4 linked regions of the Homo sapiens genome follow. The protein of the gene in region 2 interacts with the protein of the main gene of each other region in a pairwise test. Each region holds a gene or a part of one and is shown on either strand. Other genes may lie near its edges. The genes, in order: PIM1, FXR2, CAPRIN1 and LASP1.

Region 1 (2,814 bases), on a different chromosome or scaffold from region 2:
TAAAGGTGAAGGAAACTTGAATCAGGAACCGAGAGTAATAGAGGCAATAGTTTTTCAATAAACTTCACGTGTACCAAGGGGACATGCTCAAAATGTTTTACTATCAGTGGCAGACAACTGATAAAAGCTTCAAGGGTTAGTTTGGTAATAGGTATGTATTTGTTATCTCTAGATCAGCCCCATCCAATAGAACTTTCTGCAATGATGTTTTATATGAGGTGGCCACTAGCCATAAATGGCTATTGAACACTTGAAAATTGTCACATCTATCCTATTTGCATAGCTTTAAAATTGTAATCTGGAAAAGGTTATTTTATTAGGCCTCCCATGCCAGATATTGCCCAAATTTTGACAATACTGGTCCTACCCCTTGACCATACATTCGTTTCAGGAAGATGACTATCCTAGAAATCCCAATGTTGAAGGAAGCCAGATTTAGGCTGAGAATTCCTTTCTCCTACAATTCTTTGGCACTTACCAAATGCTCAATAAATGCAGGTTAGCAATGCCTCCGCACAGACGATTAGAAGCCACGAGTTAAGACAAAAGGTTTTTATTCAAAAAACGCCAAGTATAAAAAAAAAAATAAGATCTCTTTTATTCCCCTGTACAGTATTTCACTCAGATAAAACCAGCAGGCTACCTGCTGCTCAAAACACAGCCCCAGAGAGGATCTGGAAGGCACACCATCCAGAACTGCTTTTCATAATTATCCTATATACACAGTCAGCAATGCCCCTCCCCATCACCCACAGAGCCGGGACCCACCTGGGTAAGTAGGTGAGGGGCCCCACAGAAGCCAGGGAGCTGCAGCACTGTCCCGCCTGAGTCCCGTCACCCCACAAACAGAGCAAGCGTCGCAGCCCTCCCCCAAAAGGTCCCCAAGTCAGAGGAGGAAAGGAGGAAAGAAAACTAGGGCAGCAGCTATGGAAGCTTGGAATAGGAAGGGAACCAAATAAATAAATAAATAAATACATAACATTGACCTCCAGGTTAGAATGCGCATCTTTCAAAACAAGAAACAAAAACAGGTAAAATAACTTAAAGGCAAAATTTCTTAAAAATTAGATCCACTACAATCTTTTTGTATACTACCATGCCAACTGTACACACATTTACAGCTTTTCTGTTGATTGCATTGTTTGTGCATTTTTTGTGTGTGTGAGGTCTTGGCTTTGAAACAGTTAAGTAAAAACCAAAAAGGAAGACCAGTTCACTCGGAGTTTTACTAAAGGAGGCAGAAAAAAGGGCAGGTGGCTCAGCGTTTGGCCCTGTAGCCTCTTCCATGGCACCTTTCATATGAAGGAGGGGGTGAGGGAGGACAGGAGAGAAAAATAGGGAACAAAACCCAGGCAGATTTTTGGAGAAGCAGCAGGTAAAAGAGGCAAGTTCAAGTATTTCTCCCAGCACAGCCGGAGTCCCCACAGAAGGCACTCAGAAAGAGTCGGAAGAGGTGACAGGGACTTAAAATGGTGCTAGTCCTATCCCATCCCAACCTGTTTCCCCCCTACCTGACCCATCGCGGCATTCAGCAGAACTCATGATGAAGGAAACAGTTCCATGGCAGGGTTCTGACCCACCCCCACCCCCCACCCCCGGGATATTTCAGAGTCCAGCAATGCTGGACACCTATGAGAAGAAGAGAGTATCTATGGGAGGAGTTGAGGCCTAGGACCCCTGGAGAGTCACTCTTCCCCACTGTTGGGAGGCAGCCTCCAGGGGCCTGGGATCTGGAATGAGTTGTAAATGTTGTTCCTGTATCAAGCACTGTCCTGCTTGGCGAGACGTGTCACTGGTACTCGGGAAGCTGGAGACAGAAGCTTCCCCTCCCTCGGGCATCTGACAAGAGAGGGGAGGACCTGCCAGAAAGGCTGCTATTTGCTGGGCCCCGGCGACAGGCTGTGGAGGTGGATCTCAGCAGTTTCCTGGGGCAGGAGAACATCTTGCATCCATGGATGGTTCTGGATTTCTTCGAAGGTTGGCCTATCTGATGGTCTCAGGGCCAAGCACCATCTAATGAGATGCTGACATTCTGCAGAAAGGAGGATAGACGAGGTTATGAATGACTCAACTTGTTTTTACACTGCAAAGGTCTTCCCCATTTGCTTCTCAGAGGCCCACAAGTCTGGGGTCCCAGGGAGGCCAAGCATTTTCTAGAACACTGTGCTGGGTACCCTTCAATAGGAAGGTATTGACTAATATCTGGGTCCTCCAGTCTGCTTTCAGCTAAAAACTGACTCCCCTCTTAAACCTGTGGTTTTCAAACTTCAATAGTGGGGGCCTTTCCCACAACACCCACTCACCAGAAATAGGAAGGATGATGACAAGAGATTTTGATGAGACACCACTGAGCATGATGAAATGATTCAATTCACCTACCAACTTACAAACACGAACACCACCCACAGTGAGGTCACTGGTACCAAAATATTTGGAGCTGCTGCCTTAAAGAAGATGCTAAAAGAGCTTTTAACTTTTTACTCCCTGGCAAAACAGCCAGGAATTATCAGGTTTCTGTTGGTACCTTTAAAAAAGTTTTTGGAGAAGCCAGATTGTCTTTTCTTCTTAATATGCTCACACATGCCTTCCTCTGACCTCCCAAGGAAAGCTCAAGTGCAAACCATGTGATTTATGAGGCCAGCTCAAGTGTAAATCACTCACCTACAATTCTAAGCCAAGGGTGACAGAATCTACTGGAGAGTGAAGCTCTCCAGAATTTCAAAGACTGTCCCATGAAGACTAATAGCCCCATTAAGACCAATAACCCCATGGCCAGGGGTTTCCATCAGTTACCTGAAGAGACCCTCTGCCTGA
Region 2 (7,037 bases):
TTAGCATTTTCTGCCCTGTTCCTGAGTTAAAAACCACAAATCCCTAAATTCAGGCTAATCTTCCACTCTCAGTACCCTACAGATACTTATCCGTTTTGACCTTGCTGCTGATTTAATATTCATGACTCAGCAAACTTGGGATGGGTCAGGGAGTATTTACACTGCTTCTGGAATTGTACATTTGGGAAGGTCCCTTTCTCCTCTCTCAGAATTGGGCCCTGTTGTCAGTTTTCTTTTCTTTCTTTTCCTTTTTTTTTTATTTGAGACAGGGTCTCCCTCTGTCATCCAGGCTGGAGTACAGTGGCGTGATGTCGTCTCACTGCAGCCTCCGCCTCCCAGGTTCAAGTGATTCTTGTGCCTCAGCCTCCCGAGTAGCTGGGATTACAGGTGTGCAACACCATGCCTGGCTAATTTTTGTATTTTCAGTAGAGACGGGGTTTCGCTATGTTGGCCAGGCTGGTTTCTGACTCCTGACTTCAAGAGATTCGCCCGCCTTGGCCTCCCAAGGTGCTGGGATTACAGGCGTGAGCCACCACGCCCTCCCGTCAGTTTTCTTAAAGGATAAAATATTAGATCTGGGATCTAAGTTATTTTGTAGCTATCTGAAAATTAAGTTTGTCAGAATTTACTCTTTTTTTCCGTCCTTTTTTTTTTCATGTCAGACTGGCATCCGTAACAAGGGTTGAGGGAGGCATACCTCACCGTGAGCTTGAAACCGCAGTCATCATGCTTAAGACGTACAAAATGGCTTAAGACGTACAAAATGGCCTAATGTATTTTATTCTTTAAGTTGTACTCTCCCAAATGAAGTATTCACCGTCCAGGGCGCAATCTTCCTACTCCAAACCTCATCTGGATATCCTAATCCCCATTCCTTTCTTAATCAACATGGCATCCTCAGCTTCAGTACTTGGTTTTTACTCAGACTGTTCCTGCTCTTCTCCTAGAACCCCCTCCTTTGCTTTGGGAGTCTAGAACTAGAAGACGGTGAAGGTGGGGACCAATTTTATATCTTCTAATTTGAGGAAACCAAAGTACCTAGGAACCTGGGGCTCTCTCTTCCTCTGCTGGCTTGGTGCCAGGCTCCAGAAGCCAAAGCCAGGTGATGCTATGGCCACTGAATCAAGTTATCCTCTGGATCTAGGTGGCTCCCTAATACATTCCACCCACCTGCTCTTGCCTTCACCTGCTTATTTTCACAATGAGCGTAGACTGAGCAGAACTTGGGGCTCACTTCCACCACAGATACCCTTGGAGAAAAAAACTAGTATGGGATGAATGGGTGGAATTTAGGAGCAGAGACAGGATTGGAATATGAAGTTGGGGACAGAGCTAGTTTTGGAGACTAATTGAAGGAAAAAGACCCTGGAAATATAAGGGTTGAGTGAGATTTGGTTGAACTGCTGAGTAATGTGAGAGATTACTCCATTCTGAGCTTTGCATTTCTGCCTTGGAAGTCATGGTAGCTGGGAAAACTAGGGTAATATTGCTGCTCACCCTGGGGCCAAGCCTAACATGGTGGAGGAGAATTGGATTACACCATAGGCATAGCCGATTTGAATATATCTAGGAGTAGAAATCTCTCCACAAAAGCAGTAAATTAGTGATTCTCATCTCTGTCTCTTTTCCACTTCTTTCTGTCAGTGTAACTCCTGCCTTGATAAACTACTTCTAAGGCTTGGAGTAGACATTTTGGGTAAAGAACTGGATAAAGTCAGCGGAAGAGGCTGGTTGGAATAATTCTAGAAATCCAGACGACCCTGCAGCCTCTGCCTCCTGGCTTCAAGTGATTCTCATATCTCAGCCACCCTGAATAGCTGAGGTTACAGCCATGTGCCACCACGCCTGGCTAATTTATATATATGTGTGTGTGTGTGTGTGTATATATATACATACATGTATACATATACATGTATATATATATGTATACATATACATGTATATATATATGTATACATATACATGTATATATATGTATACATATACATGTATATATATACATATACATGTATATATACATATATATGTATGTGTATATATATGTATATGTATACATATATATATAGTAGCAATGGGGTTTTGCCATATTGGCCAGACTGGTCTCGAACTCCTGGCCTCAGCTGATCTACCGACCTCGGCCTCCAAGTGTTGGGATTACAGGGAAAAGAAGAGGGAATGGATAAAATATTAGTGGTTGTGGGAGTGGGGAGGACACTTGAGCAGGAGCTAAGGGAAGAACCCAAAAGGGAAGAGAGACCCAGGCAAGTAGAAGTAAAAGTGCCTCAGAAGACTTGAATGGAGAACAGTAGGAGTTGGCATTAAACCTGAATGAACATGCTCATAACTCAGGTTCTTTTTGAAAAAGGAAAAAAATCTGAATGAAGAGTAGAAAAAACATTTCTGGAGAAGAGAATGTCAGAGAAAGAAAAAGCATGGGTAAAAAAGAGGCCAGGAAGTACCAGTAGTAATTAAAGCCTTGGGCAGTAGTAAGGCTCTAAGAAAGAACATTCAGTCAAGAATGATCTTGACTGACTGCAGCCTCTATAGCAAGACATATCCCTAAAGACGAGAAAGGTGGCTTGTATGAAGAGTGAAATGCAGGCTTAGATTTTCCCATCGTAAGGAAATAGCAATCTGGTAAGTGTTTGTGATTGATTAGTTCTATGAGGTGGGAGCTGTGCATTTGCCAAGGGCATTTTTGGTGTTTTCTCTCCTAAGCTTAGCCTTTGTCCCTAGCAGCAAAGCTCATGAATAGTTCTTGTGTATTAGCCTTTTGAAACCTCTAATTCTTTTATTTTTGTTTATTTATTTTGTTTTTTGAGTCACGGTCTTGCTGTGTTGCCCAAGCTATGGAGTGCAGTGGTGCAATCACAGCTCATCACAGCCTCGACCTCCCTGGCTCAAGTGATCCTCCCACCTTAGCCTCCTAAATAGCTGGGACTACAGGCACAAGCCATCATACCCTGCTAATTTATAAATTTTTTGCAGAGATGAGGTTTCCCTGTGTTGTATGGGCTCTCTAATTTTTTTAAAAAACATCTTTATTGAGCTGAAATTGACATACAACAAAGTAGACATATTTAAAGTGTGCCATTTGTTAAGTTTTGACATGTATGTAACTGAGTCCATCACTGCAATCAAAGGAATGAACATTTCTGTCACTCCCAAAAGTCCTCCATCAACTACCAATCTTCTGTCATTATACATTAAATTGCCCTTCCTGATTTTCGATAGAAATGAAAAGGCAGTTCAATTCAGCTAAGAAAGGATAGTCTTGTCTTTTCTTTTCTTCTTTTCTTCTTTTTTTTTTTTTGAGGCAGAGTTTGCCCTGTTGTCCAGGCTGCAGTGCGATGGCATGATCTTGACTGACTGCAGTCTCTAACTCCTGGCTTCAAGTGATTTTCATGCCTCAGCCACCCTGAATAACTGAGGTTACAGCCATGTGCCACCACGCCTGGCTAATTTATATATTATTATTATTATTATTTTTTTTTTTTTTTAGTAGCAATGGGATTTTGCCATATTGGCCAGACTAGTCTCGAACTCATGGCCTCAGCTGATCTGCCAGCCTCGGCCTCCCAGTGTTGGGATTACAGGCGTGTGCTACCGCCCCTGGCCAGAAAGGATAGTCTTCAACAGACAGTGCTGGAACAAGATATCTTTAGGTAAAAAATGGGCTGGGCACAGTGGTCACACCTGTAATTCCAACATTCTTGGAGGCTAAGGCGGGTGCATTGCTTGAGTCCAGGAGTTCAAGACCAGCCTGGGCAACATAGCGAAACCCTGTCTCTATTAAAAAAAAATTTTAATTTAAAAATATATTAAAAATAAAAAAAAGTGGCCTGGTGCGATGGTTCATACCTGTAATCCCAGCACTTTGGGAGGCTGAGGCGGGTGGATCACCAGAGGTCGGGAGTTTGAGACCAGTCTGACGAACATGGAGAAACCCTGTCTCTCTTAAAAATACAGAATTAGCCAGGGTCGTGGCCCATGCCTGTAATCCCAGCTACTTGGGAGGCTGAGGCAGAATTGCTTGAACCTGGGAGGCGGAGGTTGCGGTGAGCCAAGGTTGCACCATTGCACTCCAGCGTGGGCAACAAGAGCGAAACTCTGTCTCAAAAAAATAAATAAGAATTTAAAAATTTAAAAAACATTGATCAATACCTCACCTTATATATAAAATTTAATTCAAAATGGATCATAGGCTGGGCACAGTGGCTCACATCTTTAATTCCAGCTTTGGGAGGCTGAGGCAGATGGATCACCTGAGGTCAGGAGTTCGAGACCAACCTGGCCAAGATGGTGAAACCCCGTCTCTACTAAAAATATAAAAAATTAGCCTGGTGTGGTGGCGGTTGCCTGTAATCTCAGCTACTCGTGAGGCTGAGGCAGGAGAATTGCTTGAACCCGGGGGGTGGAGGTTGCAGTGGGCCAAGATTGCGCCATTACACTCCAGCCTGGGTGACAGAGTGAGACTCTGTCTAAAAATAAAGGATTATAGATGTAAATGTAAAACAAAAAACTAAAAGTTTAAGAAGAAGACATAAGAGAAAACCTTTGTGGCCTTGGATTAGGCAAAGATTTCTTTTTCTTTTTCTTTTTTTTTTTTTTGAGATGGAGTTTTGCTCTTGTTGCCCAGGCTGGAGTGCAATGGCATGATCTTGGCTCACTGCAACCTCTGACTCTCAGGTTCAAGTGATTCTCTTTCCTCAGCCTCCCAAATAGCTGGGATTACAGACATGCACCACCACACCTGGCTAATTTTTGTATTTTTAGTAGAGACGGGGTTTCACCATGTTGGCAGGCTGGTCTCGAACTCCTGACCTCAGGTGATCTGCCTGCCTCGTCCTCCCAAAGTGCTGGGATTATAGGCGTGAGCCACTGTGCCTGGCCTGGGCAAAGATTTCTTAGATATGAAACCAAAAGCACAGTTGATAAAATAATAAATTCATAAGCTAGACCTTTTTCAAAATTAGAAATCCCTAATTGTATGTGAAAAATAGGGAGAAGGTAGAAAAATTGGGAGCATAGGGGTGAATGCATGGCTTTGGCCTCCTTAGTGAGGACACAGACCACAGGAGGTGGATCAGCTGTTCAGTCATCCCTCTTGCTCTTGTCAAAATATCAAGATTGGAGTCTTCCATAAATTTTATTATCCTTTATAAATTATCAGTGTCATTCTAGATTCAATTCTAGTATTAAAAAACCGATGTTTTTAAATTAAGTCTTAATTTTTCCTTCTGTAAATTGTGTTCATCACAATTTTGAACTTGTCTAGTGTTCCGATTATTGTCTTAGGACCCATGCATCAGGGCAGCGAGTCTGCTCAGATCTCTTGCTGTATTGCGGAGGTAGGCCCTTCTCTCTCGACAGATCCTCATGTCCTCTAGGTGTTCCAGGACAGCCTCACACTGTCTCATGGGATATTCTTAGCCTTGCTGAATGTTGTTGGTATTTTAATTGAACTCTGGCAGGCTGCTTAGCACAACAGGAGGCAGACAGATAGGGAGGCCCCTGTGGGAGCCTGAGTAGATCATTGGTTTCCAGGCTGTTCTGATGCAGGTGGTACATACACCTCTCCATGACAATATCATTTCCTTTCTCTGTTTGACTGCCCATATTCTTTCCCCAGTGCAGCCTTTCAGGCTGTCTCATTACACCACTTGTGTCCCTATCTAAAACTCAAGTTTAAGGTTTTGTGGTGTCTTATTCCCTTGATGGCTAAGGTGGAAGTAAAAGGTCATTTTATTTTTTTTGCTTTTTTCTAAAATCCATTCTAGGGCTTTGTGAAGGATGTCCATGAAGACTCTGTCACCATCTTCTTTGAAAACAAGTAAGACCTTGGGAATAGAGAATCCAGCATACTAGGTCCTAGAAGGAGAGTGGAGAAGAGGGGGCAGCTGAGTCCTATGAGGCATGTAATAGGTTGGGAGAGCTGAGGGTTTGGGTGGGAACTCATATGGATCCCAGGAGAGGAAAGGGCTGAGAATTTGGTGAGGGTGGGGGCATTTGACCCAGTATTTAGAGTCTAGAAAGAGATGGAAGACACTACTATGGAGCAGGGCCTGGGGTTTAGCCTCTAATTATCCAGATAGGTGGAACTCGCCCAGCTGAGGCAATAACCCTTTTGTAAAGAAATGGGCAACCATATCAGTCAGAGTAGCTTTTTCATATTATTGTTTCTATTATAGCTGGCAGAGTGAGAGACAAATTCCTTTTGGGGATGTCCGGCTACCACCTCCAGCTGACTATAATAAGGAGATCACAGAAGGGGATGAAGTGGAGGTAAGGGCTGTGGAGTACACCTTTCTAAATGTCACTTTTCCCCAGGATTCTAGGCTTTTCTCTGGTTGGTTCATGTTCCTTCCTCCCCAACTAAGCCATATCCAGCCATGTAGCCTATGGAAATGTAAAATGCAACAGTTCCCCTTTTATCACTGTTGTGATCAGCCAAACTCTCAGGAACATCCCCAGTTTCAGGCGATTTGCCTTCCATTTATGGTAACAACATCTAAAATCCAGTGCCCTCTGATTTTTTTGTTGTTGTTGTTGTTGTTGTTTTGAGATGGAGTCTTGCTCTGTTGCCCAGGCTGGAGTGCAGTGGCGCGATCTCAGCTAACTGCAACCTCCGCCTCTTGGGTTCAAGCAATTCTTCCACCTCAGCCTCCCAAGTAGCTGGGATTACAAGCACCTGCCATCATGCTCGGGTAATTTTTGCATTTTTGTAAAGACATGGTTTCACCATGTTGGCCAGGCTAGTCTTGAATTTCTGACTTCAGGTGATCCACCCGCCTCAGCTTCCCAAAGTGCTGGGATTACAGGCATGAGCCACCATGCCCTGCCGTCCTCTGATTTTAATTAGTTCCTTCCTCTGGTTTCTTGTATCCTTGGTTTAAGATACATCCCAGGCTGGATGCAGTGGCTCACACCTGAAATCCCAGCACTTTGAGAGGTCGAGTGGGGCAGATCACCTGAGGTCAGGAGTTCAAGACCAGCCTGGCCAACATGATGAAACCCCATCTCTACTAAAAATACAA
Region 3 (7,039 bases), on a different chromosome or scaffold from region 2:
AGCAGGCTTGCTTACTGCATTAAAATTTTAAAAAGAGGCCGGGCACAGGGGCTCACTCCTGTAACAGCACTTTGGAAGACCAAGGCGGGCGGATCAGGAGGTCAAGAGATCGAGACAATCCTGGCCAACAGGGTGAAACCCTGTCTCTACTAAAAATACAAAAAATTAGCTGGGCGTGGTGGCAGGCACCTGTACTCCCAGCTACTTGGGAGGCTGAGGGAGGAGAATCGCTTGAACCCGGGAGGTGGAGGTTGCAGTGAGCTGAGATCGCGCCATTGTACTCCAGCCTGGGCAAAAAGATCGAAACTCCGTCTCAAAAAAAAAAAAATTTAAGAAGATACCCAACAGGGTAAACTAAATCATGTGTCAGACTCAGAAGATACTGGCCTTGGGCATGCTTATTCCATTCAACATTTGAATGTAGCTACCTTACACTTAAAATACTTTTGTTACTTTCTTGATGTAACTACATTTACTATTCCAATTACCTATAATAAAACATACATTTATCAAAATAAAGGATTGGGAAAAAAAAGAAATCCCAAGTCCATGAAATTCAAGTAAAACTTCCAACCTTCAATACCGAAGATGAAACAGGGAAGTATCAAATCTAAATGTTTTAAAACTCTCCCAAAATGTAAAATATATAAGTAAAATTAATAAGACCTAAACATCACCAGTTTTCTTCAACTTATTTCCCACAGCCCAAGTTTTAGCCAGTTACTATATCAGCACCTCAAGTAACACTATTAGGTGTCTGGCCACATAAACACTGCAAAATGATTTCCTGGAAATTCAAGATGTTATAAATATGTTTTCCTAGAGGCAGACAAGTAGAAGTTATCAAGGCTTCATTTTACTTTATAAGGTAAAATTCAAGTTAACATGATAGTCACAGACGTAATTACCTCGTTTTTACAAACGACTAATTTGTTTCTCCCCTTCCACCTCTGATCTTACTCATTTTAATTATTCACTCTGCCCAGACCTTTTCTCTACATACATACACACGCCCCTCTAAACAAGAGTTTACACTGTCCTGCGATGAAAGCATAAAACAAAAGGCTGACTTGCAGATGAAGATATACCTCAGTAGTTTGATCTACAAGGACTAAATATTGAATCCAAAAAATCGTGGGTGTGGCTCGATTTTTTTTTTTTTTAGAGGGGGGCCTAAGGAGGCCAGTCGGGGCGGCTGCCTGGTCTCTGCCCTCCCCCTCTGCTTTCGCTTTGTGCTCACAATGCAGCTCCAGTAAAGCGCTTCCCTCTCCCCGCAGCCGCCGCCATGTTAGACGCTCTCTCCATGTGCCCCGAGTCCCAGCCATCCTCTCCAGTCTCCCCAGGACCCAGCCCCCAACGAATCTAAATCGTGGCAGTCCCCCGCCCCTTCACAGTCCCCTAGGAACAAAAAGTCGCTGCAGAAAATCATCTCGCGATTGAGCTGAGCCTGAGGCTCGGGGGGACACCTAAACAATTGAAACAAAGAGGGAAACGCAGGGGAGCCCATCGCATGGGCGCGGGGGTAGCAAATCGAAGACCCATTCAAAATGGGCCTGCCGGAAAGGCAGTTCTACCTTAAGATTCTAAACACACTTCTCTCCTACGGAAGAAGAGGGGACGCTCGACAGGTCTCGAGTGCATGGTAACCGAGCGGACAGACCCCAAGGCTGCAGGACGCAGGCCGCCCCAACTCCACGAGGCGGTCGGTTGAACCCGGAGCCCCCCGCGCAGGGACCTCTTCATTTTGGGCCCTCGTCAGAGAAATCGGGCCTCAGAGACGGAAAGAAGGGCACCATACAGTGAAGTCCTGACGACAGGCCCCCACCCTCACATGTCCCACTCCTAAAGGCCAAAAAGCCGGACCCACAGCGGAAGAGTAATAAAGAGGCCTGGGGTACAGTGCCGCGTCCGAGTCAGGTGACAAGTGCCTCTTCCAAGAGCCCGTTTTCTGGGCACGAAGCTCCCGCTGAACGTGGAGACGGGGCGTGTGGGCCAGGGGGTGGGAGGAGGGGACCTAGTAACGCTCCCGAGACGAAAAGAAGCGAAGGCTCCAGCGACCAGGGTCGGAGGGGCCGCAGAGCCCGGCCGCAGCCACCCCTCCCTTCCCCGCCAACTCCTGGCACCTTTTTCTTCTCCAGGTTCCGAAGTTTCTTGTCGATCACCCCGAGAATCTGCTTCATGGCCTCGGTCTGGACAGCGCCGGTGCCGGTTGCGGGGTGCTGAGAAGCCGGCGCGGCGGCCCCGGCTCCCGCGGCCGCCTCACTCCCGGAGGAACCCGACGGCGGTGGCGGTCCGGACGACTTGCTGCCGCTCCCGCTGTGGCTGGTGGCCGAGGGCATCTTCAGACCGCAAGGAGAGAGAAGAAAAAGCGGGAGGAAGGACAAGAGCGGCCAGTCAGGAGACGGACGGGGCGAGACGCGGGACAAAACGCGCAGCGAGCGGTAGCCTACGCGAGCGGGTGGGGGAGGGGGCGCGGCGCGCCTCGAGGGCAGGAAGAGTGCGCGGGCGCGCGCGCGACCCGCCAGCGGGGCGCCCGGCTGGGCCTCGCACCGCCCCCCGACCCGCCCCTCCCCCGCGGAGCCGCCGGCTCGGCCTACCAGCCCGGGGGCTCCGAGGCTCGCGCCGGAGGCGGGGCATCGCCGCGCCGGCCGCCAACGGCCACTGCAACGGTCCCTACCGGGGAGGGCCGGCTTTTGCCGGCTTCCGGAGAAGGGAGGAAAGAGAGAGGTCGGGGCTTGGGGGCAGAGAAGGGCATGGGAAATGACCGGGGTGGGGTGGGGGGACTTGGGGGCAAGCCCCTCGGAAGCTCCAGCGGGTCCGGAGATAAAGGACACCCGGGCGCAGCGGCCCTCTTCCCCTGCAGCGGCTCGGTCCCGGGTGGCGCTCACCGTGCGCGCGCGGAGGCCGCTGGAAATCACGAGTGGGCAGCTGAGGGGGCAAGGGTGGTGGTCCCTTCCGGGCAGTGTCGCGCGCTCCGTGGGCGCAGGCCGCTTCGCCCTGTCCCGCTGCACCGAGAGCCGCTCCTAGTGAGGCGAGAGCCGGGAGCGGGAGGGACTTAGCCAGCCAGCAGCCCTCTGGGTCGCGAGGGGCGGGAGAAGCGGAGAGCGGGGGCCTTCGCGGCCGCTCGGGCTGCCCGGCGCGAACGCCTGCCCGGAAGAGGCCGCCCGCTAGCTTCTCCGCCGTCCCCCGGCCCCGGCGCTGTGGGGCGCCTCCTGGACGCAGGTGGGGATGGCCCCGGCAAGGCCGAAGGAAAGGCCCCTTGAGTTTTGAGAGCAATCGACGCTAGGGTCCTTCAGGCGAAATCGTTTGACGCCCAAACGGGGACAATAGGTGTCAAGCAGCTGGCTCTGGAGCTGGCAACTGCCCCTTGAAGAGCCCTTATTTGGGGTGGGGGTGGGGGTTGGGGGGCAAAGGTTTCTGCAAGTAAGGGGTGCGTGGGGTGGGTGGTGCGATCCCAGCTTCTAGAATTCCTTCTGTATGCAGAGCGAGCAAACTCCATACCCCAAAACGTCTTTTGAAAAAAAGACAACTCGCCGCTTCCCCACCAAACAATCACCCAGTAACCTAGGAGTTCTCTGTAGAACGTGTCGGACACGGTCATGGTTGGTGGCTTTTTAAATCCTAAAGCTCTGGCCTCACAAAGAGTCTTCAGCTACCCTATGATGTTATACATCCAGTAGGCCTGAGTATTACGAATTATTAGACTTTTGTTTCCTTTTTTTTTAGGTTTACCTAACACTGTAAAGAGAACGTTCAATGAAATACAAAGAAAAAGATGATTTTTTTGCTCCAAGAGAATTATTCCAGCCTTGGGGTGGAGTGGGTGTGGACAGTGAGCAGAAAAACAAGAAACCAAGTTCTGGGAGGAAATAAAATGAATATAATCAGTGGAAAATTCAGCAACGCAATATTGTGTGACAACAGTAAATGACCAATTTATAATTTAAATTCTATGAAAAAGAGATTTAGAAGAGAGTTCTACCAAACCCACTGTTCCCTAGGGAATAAAATGAGTAACGCTGACTGGCAACAGTGCATCCTGAGGGAGCCTGGAGAAACAACAGCAGCCTCCGACCTCAAGATATCCTGGTTAGCTGCAAAGTCTGTTATATATTCATTCAAATATTTATTAAGCACCTTACTGTGTGCTGGGAACTCTTAAGTGCTAGGGATTATGAACAAAACATATTTACATGGAGCTTACAATCTAAGTAAGGGGAAGACAAGTAAATACATGTCAGATAGTGAAATGGTAGAGAAAAGAAAAAACGGTGGTCAGGGAAAGCCTTACTGACATTTGAGCTAGTACTGAAGGAAGTGAGGAAGAAGGCTAAGCAGCTACCTTGGAGGAGGAATTTTCCAGGTAGAGGAAACACCAAGTACTAAGATCTGAGACGGAGTGTGCTTTTTGGGTTCAAGGAACAGCACGGAAACCATAGTGGCAAGAGCAGAGAGTAGGAGATGAGGTCAAACATATTAAAGGGGGCTGGTCTTGTAGGGCCTGAAAGACCACGGTAAGGACTTTGGCTTTTGCTGCATTAGATGGGGAGTCATAGTTTCAAAATTTAGTCACCTAAACCATCCTTAGCACTACGCTGAGCAATTATGCCAGGCCTAGAGGCTAGAAACGGAGATGATAATCCTTTAGCTCCTTGCAACTCAAAGTTTATTCAGCCCAACCTCTCTCACTACCACTATCACTACTATCTTGGACTGCATAGCAGACTTAACTGAATCTACATTTTAACAAGATCTTCAGGAGATTTGTGTGTACATTAAAGTTTCAGAAATCACTGTTTTGTTCCTCGGAATTGACCAATGTCTAAAGTTTTATTGGGAGACATCCAATCCATCTATGCACATCCATTCTATGACTGCCTCTCTGCCATAGCACAGCAGAGTTGAGTACTTGGGTGTGCAACAGACAGTAGGGTGTGCAAAACCTAGAATACTATCTCTTCTTTTACAAAAAAAGTGTTTGCCAATCCCTGGTTTAAAACTACAAAGGGGCCAGGTGAAGGGGCTCATGCCTGTAATTCCAACACTTTGGGAAGCCAAGGCTGGCAGATCACTTGAGGTCAGGAGTTCGAGACCAGCCTGGCCAATATGGCAAATCCTGTCTCTACTAAAAATACAAAAAAATTTGCTGGGTGTGGTGGCGCATGCCTGTAATTACAGCTGCTCAGGAGGTTGAGGCACGAGAACCCGGGAGGCAGAGGCTGCAGTGAGCCAAGATTGTGCCACTGCATTCCAGCCTAAGCAACAGAGTGAGACTGTCTCAAAAAACAAAAAACAACTGCAAATGGTACACATCCATCACAGTTCAACAGAGGGCCCTGTTCGTAGTAGTCACTCAGTAGATTCATGCTGATGCCATATCTCAAGTGTTGCTGATCACTGTACCACAAGAGAACTCAGGAATATCTCAGTCAATTAAATGCTTTAGACAAGTAGATATGCATCACATCTGCTTAAATTCATTGGCCAAAAAGAGTCACATGACCCTATCCAACTATAAGGGAGTCAAGAGATGGTATTCTATCAGATGCCGGGTAGGAAGCAGATGAGCCAGAAATATTTGGTGAATATATGAAGCTGTCACGCTTTCACTTCCTATATCATCCCAATCCCATTTCATTGGTGTTCTGACATTCTGCGTTTGTCTGTTCAGGTCAGCAAGTCCAGAAAGACCAATAAATTTAAGGCAAAGCTGTGTCCTAAAGCTCACTTCCTGCCCAGATCAATGCCAAGGTCTCAGTCATTCAAATTTGTGTATTTCCTACTTGACTGAAGCTATGTTTATGTGAATTTTAAATACTCATTTTTTAAACCCTTTTTTCTAGTACAGAGCTATGCAGTAACTTGCAGTCATTGCATCATTGAAGAAATAAAGGGTTCCCAGAAAACACACTGGAGGAGCAGAATATGTTTATAAATGGTTTATAAATTTAAAAACCTTGGTATACTTTAATATATGCCAATATTAAATATATTAACATAAAGCAAATACAACAATATGCAAAATAATATATTTCAATAACAAATCTTTCAAGCTGACATTTGCTTGTTCAATTCATTAGACCACAGCACTTTGAAGTTTCCACAAAGTGAATAATTAAACTATTTATCCTGATCATTTTAGCAAAATAATTCAACTGCTTGAACTTGAGTCACCCAATAAGCTAATGCTTATTTGTAGCAAAAGAGAGGAATCTTCATCTGAATTATATGAACTGCCTCTTTGTTTCAGGTTGACAGAAACCTGACCAAAGTGTGAACTACACTGTTCACATAGCTAAGGCTCTTAAAGTTTCTTAAATTTGTTTTTCCATCATTTTACTACAAGTCAGGAGTAGACATTTCTATCATAATTTTTCCAGTACAGTCTTTTTTATTGTAATTCAATCAATGATTGTCTATGTGTCCATGAACCACCACTAAACTCTAAGCTTTTCAAAGAAAAAGAGCAGTCGTTTTGTTTTTCCATCTCTGGATCCTCATAAGCAATAGCATGCCTGGCACAACTATTTTGTCACTAAGTATTGCCTACTGTATTAACATATCAGTACGGTTTTAATATTATTATTACTATTGGTCCATACTGTCTCTGAATTCTTACATTTTGGTCATCAGCTGAGATAACATCCTTTTCCGCTTATATTTTCCTATGTCCACCTTTTCTTGCGTGTAATATTATGCTTAGAAACAGGACTTCATGTTTTGTAGAGGTACAATATGTTCAGAATAGTTATTTCAGATTTCACGAAATACTGTTGTTTGTTATTGAACACTCTTAGAAGCTACACACTTTACTCAATGTAAAAGTAAACACAGTGGTATGTGCTTGAAATCCCAGCTACTCGGGAGGCTGAAATGAGAGCATTAGTTGAGCCCAGTAGTTCGAGGATGCAATATCATGTCACTACACTCCAGCGTGGACAACAGAGTAAAACCCAGCATCTAAAAAATAAAAATTTTATTTTTATTTTATTTTATTTATTTATTTTTTTGAGATGGAGTATCATTCTGTCGCCCAGGC
Region 4 (7,037 bases), about 31 Mb from region 2:
CCAGGGCTTGTGTGAGCCCTTAAGAATTCGAAGAATGTCCCATTTCCCTTGTGGGGGTGGGAGGGGTTGGTAGGGGGAAGAGGAACAGTAGAAATTAATAGAAGAGAAGGGGCAGCTGAAGGAGGGGCCAGGACAGAGCTGCAACCCTTCCTTTACCCAGATAACCTGCCCAGTGCCCTCCTTCTTCCAGAAGGGACAACTTCATGTTGCTTCTTGGGCTTGAGATTTTTATCAGGAATCTGTTTTCCCAGCACCTGGTGCAGGTTAGTATGTATTATAGCAGCAGGCAGGCAATAAATGTCTGCTGAATGAGCGAGCCCCTAAAAAGATGAAAGAGTGGTCTTAGCCAGGGAACGGGAGGGGGTAAGGAAGCAAGGAAGGTTTGGGGTAAGGTTAGGGGTAAGGCTGGAGGTTTAAGCCCCCTTTTTAGACAAGTCCCAAATTTTTTTTTCCCTGGGTGAACTTCAGCTGCAAAGAGCCTCCTGACTGAGAATTAAGAGAAAAAAAAAAAAAACTGGACTCAAGTCAGATCCTAAATTCATGTGAACACTGAAATTACCATTACTTGAGTTGGTTGAAGTTAAAAAAAAAAAAGTTAAAATTAAAAAAAAAATCGAATTAAGGCTGGGCGAGGTGGCTTATACCTGTAATCCCAGCACTTTGGGAGGCTGAGGCGGTGCATCACTTGAGGTCAGGAGTTCGAGACCAGCCTGGCCAACACGGTGAAACCCCGGTCTCTACTAAAAAATACAAAAATTAGCTGGGCATGGTAGCATGCATCTGTAATCCCAGCTACTCAGGAGGCTTAGGTACAAGAATCGCTTGAATCCAAGAGGCGGAGGTTGCAGTGAGCCAAGATCGCGCCACTGCACTCCAACCTGGGTGATGAGTCCTCTGACTCAAAAAAAAAAAAAAAAGCAAATTAAAAGAAAAAGAAATTATCATTACATCATTACTTATAAGTGACTTGACCTTCCAAAGCCTCCACCTCGCAGGTGGAGGCGGCTGTGAGGCCCCAACACTGAGTTTGTACTTGCTACTCACAAGGTCAATTGGAAGATGGAAAATTGCTGTACTTTCTGGGATTGCATGGGATGGGATGGGATGGGATGGGAGGGGAGGTATTCCTCCAGGCTCTGGGATGGGGGACCCCACCTCTATACTCCCTCCCTACCGTCAGCTGCTGCAGGTCCCAGTGCAGAAGGAACAGAGCTGCACTATACTCAAGATGACTATACTCAAAAGAAACAGTCTCCACAGCCTCCCTCACCAGGCAGGGAAGAGATCTATCTGGCCCAGGCAACACCCTTTATGCACCCCTGCCCATTCTCAAAAAATGAACACCAAAAGGGCTGGCATGAGGCTTCCAGAGAGTTTTCTTGAAGGAACCACTGGAGGAAGGAGCCCCCAAAGCCTAGAAGTACCCAGGTGAGAGAAGGAAACTGTCGATTTTGAGGAGAGAAATAAGGGAAGGTAAACAGAACAAAGTCCTCAACCCCAAATACAACAGACACGTCACTCATTCTTGAAAGACCACGAGGAAAGCCCCCTCTTTTGTAGCAGGGGACAGTGGAAAGAAACGTGCTCGCCTTACTGCCCGAAATTGGGTTAGAGCCTGTCTTGCCCTAGCCATCCCACCTTGAGAGTCTCTTCCCTTCCCTAAGCCCCAGTTTCCTCATCTGTACTTTAAATGCACTTTAAATGGGGGATAAAAGCACTTTAAATGGGGATAAAAAGTGCTTGCTTCATTCAGCTGTTGTGAGGACAAACTGTGATGTTCAAGTAGGGGATGGAAGTGTTCGCCAATGTCACCTTGCGGTTATTGGAAGGAAAGGAAGAACTCACTCGGGGAGGGAGCCAAGGTGCCCACCCAGCCCCCTGCCCAGAACAGGACTCACGCGTTGCAGTAGGGCTTCTTCTCGTAGCCCTTGTAGTTCTTCATGTTCAGTGTCATCTTGCAGGTCTCGCAATGGAAGCATGCTTTATGCCAGAACTGGGGATGGAGACAGGAGGACATACATCAGATACCAGGACTTCTGAAAAAGGGGCTCAGGCCCTAGGAAGGGGCACTCAGGAGCTGCTGGGACTGTCCTAGGCCCATGGCTGTGGGGAGAACATGGAATCATCCCAGGTGAGCTGGGGGCATTTCAGGTCACAGGCTTTGGCACTCCCCTCCCCTCTCTCCTTCCTCATCCTCCACCAATGGGCCATTTGAACCCAGGAGGAAGAGACAGGCAGGCATGAAGGACAGGGGGGAAGAGCCCAGTTATAGCAGTGGCAGCAGCCCCCAAGTCAGCTCCACCCTCCCCAGGGAACCCCTCCTGCCCAGAGCTGGCGAGGCCTCATTGCTTATGCAAAGCTGCGCTGGGTTGCTAGGGAGCAGCCGCTGAACATGAAGGAGCAGCTCCTCTGGTGGCACCAAGGCCTCAGAAGAGGAAGGCCCAGCCCCCACACACCCAGGCCCAGAACCCAGGTGCTCCTAGCTCCTGTACCAGGGCCCAGCACACCCACCAGCCCCACATGAGCCCCAGGTGGTGCTACAGCTCCGATACCTCCCACTTCCTGTGGGATGCCTGGCCAGAGGAGTGGGCTGGGTGTCCCAGGCTCTGTCAACACAACACATCCTTTCTACCCTTCCCTCATCCTCTCCCACCCCAGGAGGAGGGCAGGAGAGCACCCGGCAGCGGGTCTCCCACTGAGGCACTGAAGGGCTCTACTTCAAAGCCTTGAAGGTGGACACCCCTATAGTGGACATCAAAGCTCTACCCCACTAACTGTATGGCCTTGGGCGGGGCCCTGCACCTCAGAGGAGCCCACTTCCTGGTGTGTACAATGGATGTAATAACACCTGGCCCTCCTGGGATTGTCCAGGACTGAGGAGAAATCACCTTCAAAGCCCTCAGCACAGCACTTGGCACCTCTGAGCACTCAGATGTCAGGTGCTGGGCACAGCAGGTGTGAACCTTAGCCGAGGGGGTCAGGGCTCACACTGGAGATTGTGTGTGTTGGGGTGCAGAGGGGCTTCACTGTGCCAACCACAGCTCCAATCCATTCATGCGTGTGAGAATGTGGGACACGGCCGGGCACGGTGGCTCACGCCTGTAATCCCGCACTTTGGGAGGCCGAGGCGGGCGGATCATGAGGTCAAGAGATCGAGACCATCCTGGCTAACATGGTGAAACCCCATCTCTACTAAAAAGACAAAAAAATTAGCCAGGCGTGGTGGCGGGTGCCTGTAGTCCCAGCTACTTGGGAGGCTGAGGCAGGAGAATGGCGTGAACCCAGGCCACTGCACTCCAGTCTGGGTGACAGAGCAAGACTCCGTCTCAAAAAAAAAAAAGAGAATGTGGGACACAGGGCCCATCCAGGGTGGCCGACGGAGGGAAGAGAGTGATGACAGAAAGAGAACAGATCTAGCCGGGAGCGGTGGCTCACGCCTATAATCCGAGCACTTCGGGAGGCTGTGGCAGGCGGATTACTGGAGGTTGGGAGTTCAAGACCAGCCTGGCCAACATGGTGAAACCCCGTATCTACTAAAAATACAAAAAAATTAGCCGGGTGCAGTGACGGCGTGCCTGTAATCCCAGCTACTCGGGAGGCTGAGGCAGGAGAATCGCTTGAACCCAGGAGGCAGAGATTGCGGTGAGCTGAGATCATGCCACTGCACTCCAGCCTGGGGTATAGAGCGAGACTTAATCTCAAAAATAAATAAATAAATAAATAAATAAATAAATAGGCCGGGTATGGTGGCGCATGCCTGTAATTCCAGCTACTTGGGAGGCTGAGGCAAAAGAATCACTTAAACCCAGGAGGTGGAGGTTGCAGTGAGCCAAGATTGTGCCACTGCACTCCAGCCTGGGTGACAGAGCAAGACTCTGTCTCAAAAAAAAAAAAAAAAAAAAGAGAAACGATCTAACAGGCTCCACGTGGCAGCCTGGAGGGGTCTTTGTGGAACCCCTGAGAAGTATTGATGCTTAGGCAAACCCATGACAACAGGATCTAAATTCACCCCCAGAAGCCCAGGATGATGTGCTGGATCACCACCAAACAGGGGTCCACTGCCAGGACCCCAGAATAATCCAGGCCACCTGAGTGACCTGGCTGGCCTGTCCCTGCCCCATTTCCCAGTAGTCAAGGGAGACATTCCCCATTCCAAAAGAAGGAGGCCAGGAGGCAGGCCCAGGGGGACTTTTGAAGGAGCCCAGCCACAGAGCTGGTTCTTGGCCATTTGTCAAGGAATTCCCCCAAGGCGATGCTTTTCAAAATGTTGTCTCCAAACCCCCGGAGGGAGAGGTGCTTCTGAGACACTGGGAGGAGGGGATAGCAGAAAGAAGGCTGAGAATCTGGGATTCAACCTCCCTACCATGGCCCACTTCAACCAGAGACCCCCAGGGTAATTTCAGGGGGAAATCACCTTCTAATAGGGTACTGGTTCCCTATCAAGAAGACCCAAAGGAAAAACCTAATGGTGGAATATTAAACAGAATGCTAGGAGAACCACTCTTGGGGAGGACGGCCAGCCGGAAGTCTGGAAGCAAAGAAGTGGCGGGTCTAAGCTTGGCCCCCTCCCCAACCTGGGCCTATCCCAGTGACCCAGGGCCCCCAAACTCCTATGAGGCAACTTAAAGACTCCTTCTGGTGCATAACCCAATAGACAGAACCCACCGGGACACTAAGACAGACTGGTCCCTGCCCCCACAGGCCCCTGAAGTGGTGCATACCCCAACACACAGAACCCACCAGGGACACTAAGACAGGCTGGTCCCTGCCCCCACAGGCCCCTGAAGTGACAGCCCCACTCCCTCCCCGAGTAACTGGGAGGCATTGGCAGGGTGCCCCAGCCTGGTCACCACCCAGTCTGCTGGCCTCTGCCTACTTAGCTGCACAGGCCCCTGCCTAGGCCCCTGCCTGGGCCCCTGCCTCCCCCTACCCCCACAGGGGCCTGCCAGGAAAAACATTCTCCAGAATCCAGACCATGACCCACTTTCTCACACACACACACACACACACACACACACACACGAAGGGCTACACACTGTCCTAGGACCACGGACCTCCAAGGCTGCCTCCTGATTGACGTTGGGGAGACAAAGGGAGAGAGACCCCTACTCCAGATGGCCAGGCCTGCACCCGGAGCCAAGCCCCTTGGAGAAGGAGGGTGGGGTGTACTGAGCAGGCAGGGGGCACAGGGCCAACACTGGACCCAGTGGTTCCAAAGACCCCTCCAGGCTGCCACGCGGAGGAAGCAGAGCCCCTCTTCTAGGGGATGGCACCTATTTCTATCAGTAGCTCCTTCCCACCTCCCTCACAGGCCCCACACTCTCATCCAGACACCCAAGGGTGGGGCAGAGGAGGGTGGTCGCCTGTCCCCCTGCAGGGGGCTCTGAGCAGAAACATGGAAACCAGTTACTATGAAGCACAAGTGTCAAGTGGAGCTGCAGCCACTGTCTCCCAGAGTGCTGGAAGGTCAGGAGAGGAGGCCGTTCCACCCCTAATGCTTGGCACCTCCAGCAGCTTCAGGCGACTCCCCTACCCTCTCTGGAGGAAGGCCCCAAGGTTCAAGAAAACCCACCAGCTCCTTCCACTGTGTCCTTTTTGGGGTAGGAAAATTGTGGGGAGGGGAGGCAGAAAATGGCCAGTCCCTCCACAACCGCTGTGAGCCAAGCCTGGACCCTAAGATGAAAGAACTCCTGCCTTGTCTCAATGGGGTCTGGGGAAGGACACTGTCAGGGAAATATGTCCAGAGGACCCCACAGTGACCCCGTCTGCCTCTGCCCTGCCCCATGGGCTCTGTCCCAGAGCAAGAGCCCCCCTCTTTTAAAGGCCCCAGGCAAGATGATTTCAGCGAAGCATTCCTGGGCCTCAGGACTCAAGGAAACTGCACCTCGAGGCATGCACCTCTGCCCCTTCCTGCTGCCTGCAAAGTCCATGGCTTCCCTGTTCACAGAAACCAGACAGACCCTACCTCTGCTGCCTGTTAGAGGCCTCTCAGCCTGGATCCGAGGCTCCAAGGCAGGGTCATCTTGATCTTCCCTTGCCTACCTGCAACCCACTCTAAAGAAAGGTAAACAGGCTGGTAGGGGCAGAAGCCTGCAAGGATACCCCTCACTTGGGACAGCCTGTCCCTCTGTGGCTCTGGGTTGGGGGGGATGTGGCAAGCTTCGTGTCACTGTGCCTGCAGCCTGGCACCTTGGCCTCTGAACCCAGGCTACCTGGGGTGGCCATGACTCAGGGATGGATTATGAGACCATCTCTTCCCTTCCTGTTGCCCAGGGTTACAGTTTCTCCCTCCTGCAGAGGCAATGCCAGCCCCACCCTGGCCGGGGCACCAGCCTAGCTTGGTTGGCCACCTGACCCGCTGGCTTAAAGGCATAGATCTTTGCTGCACCTCCACAAATTCCGAGGAGGACAGGATTATTCCCAGTGGCCCCACGCCCCCATACAAGACCCCAGGCCCAGAGCATTCCTCCAGATAGGGTCAGGAAGGGATGGGACCTACTTTTGGCACAAATGAGATGTAAATAAAATATAAATATGTATAAATAAAAGTACTTTCTGCAAACACACTGGCAGAAGAGCTGAGCAGAAAGAACTGTGGATGTGAATTTCAGCTCTAAGAGAGGGAGATGAGCCACATGGGCTACCTGAGCCTCCATTTATGGAGTGCATCGTTTACAAGAGCGAATACACCTACTTTGTGAGGCTGCTGTGAAGACTGAGCCCAGCATATCGTGATAACTAGTAGCTATTATGAAGGGATGGTCACAAGATGATGGTGGGGTACTCTAAGCTTCAGCTAGCAAAACGGGGCACCACAGCTGTGAGGACTTCAACCCCCTCGAGTGGGGAGGGAGCGCTGAGACAAGCAGAGGCAGAGAGCCCACCCTAACAGGGGATTCCAGGGGAACTGGCAGCAGACCAATCCTCTACCTCCACCTGTTTTCAGAAACCTGGGGAAGCAAGCCAGGAAAGAGGGACGTGGCGAGGTTCTTGACAACACAGCTCCCTAGATACAAAGCAGGTGCACAAAGTAGGTG

Evidence for each region.
Region 1: the proteins of FXR2 (region 2) and PIM1 interact in binary tests that used the Homo sapiens proteins (3 or more experiments, as listed by UniProt).
Region 3: the proteins of FXR2 (region 2) and CAPRIN1 interact in binary tests that used the Homo sapiens proteins (3 or more experiments, as listed by UniProt).
Region 4: the proteins of FXR2 (region 2) and LASP1 interact in binary tests that used the Homo sapiens proteins (3 or more experiments, as listed by UniProt).

Annotation. Positions count from the first base shown.
Region 1 is NC_000006.12:37,173,152-37,175,965, reverse strand, and holds the end of PIM1 (serine/threonine-protein kinase pim-1), read right to left. Parts: coding exon 2,794-2,814; intron 2,033-2,793; coding exon 1,875-2,032; 3' UTR 538-1,874; downstream 1-537. UniProt on the Homo sapiens protein: Proto-oncogene with serine/threonine kinase activity involved in cell survival and cell proliferation and thus providing a selective advantage in tumorigenesis.
Region 2 is NC_000017.11:7,604,893-7,611,929, reverse strand, and holds part of FXR2 (RNA-binding protein FXR2), read left to right. Parts: intron 1-656; exon of another isoform or gene 657-749; intron 750-5,780; coding exon 5,781-5,833; intron 5,834-6,191; coding exon 6,192-6,285; intron 6,286-7,037. UniProt on the Homo sapiens protein: mRNA-binding protein that acts as a regulator of mRNAs translation and/or stability, and which is required for adult hippocampal neurogenesis. Specifically binds to AU-rich elements (AREs) in the 3'-UTR of target mRNAs.
Region 3 is NC_000011.10:34,047,721-34,054,759, reverse strand, and holds the start of CAPRIN1 (caprin-1), read right to left. Parts: upstream 3,030-7,039; 5' UTR 2,889-3,029; intron 2,728-2,888; exon of another isoform or gene 2,636-2,727; intron 2,461-2,635; exon of another isoform or gene 2,340-2,460; coding exon 2,124-2,339; exon of another isoform or gene 1,433-2,123; intron 1-1,432. UniProt on the Homo sapiens protein: mRNA-binding protein that acts as a regulator of mRNAs transport, translation and/or stability, and which is involved in neurogenesis, synaptic plasticity in neurons and cell proliferation and migration in multiple cell types.
Region 4 is NC_000017.11:38,873,042-38,880,078, reverse strand, and holds part of LASP1 (LIM and SH3 domain protein 1), read right to left. Parts: intron 6,200-7,037; exon of another isoform or gene 5,966-6,199; intron 1,994-5,965; coding exon 1,899-1,993; intron 1-1,898. UniProt on the Homo sapiens protein: Plays an important role in the regulation of dynamic actin-based, cytoskeletal activities.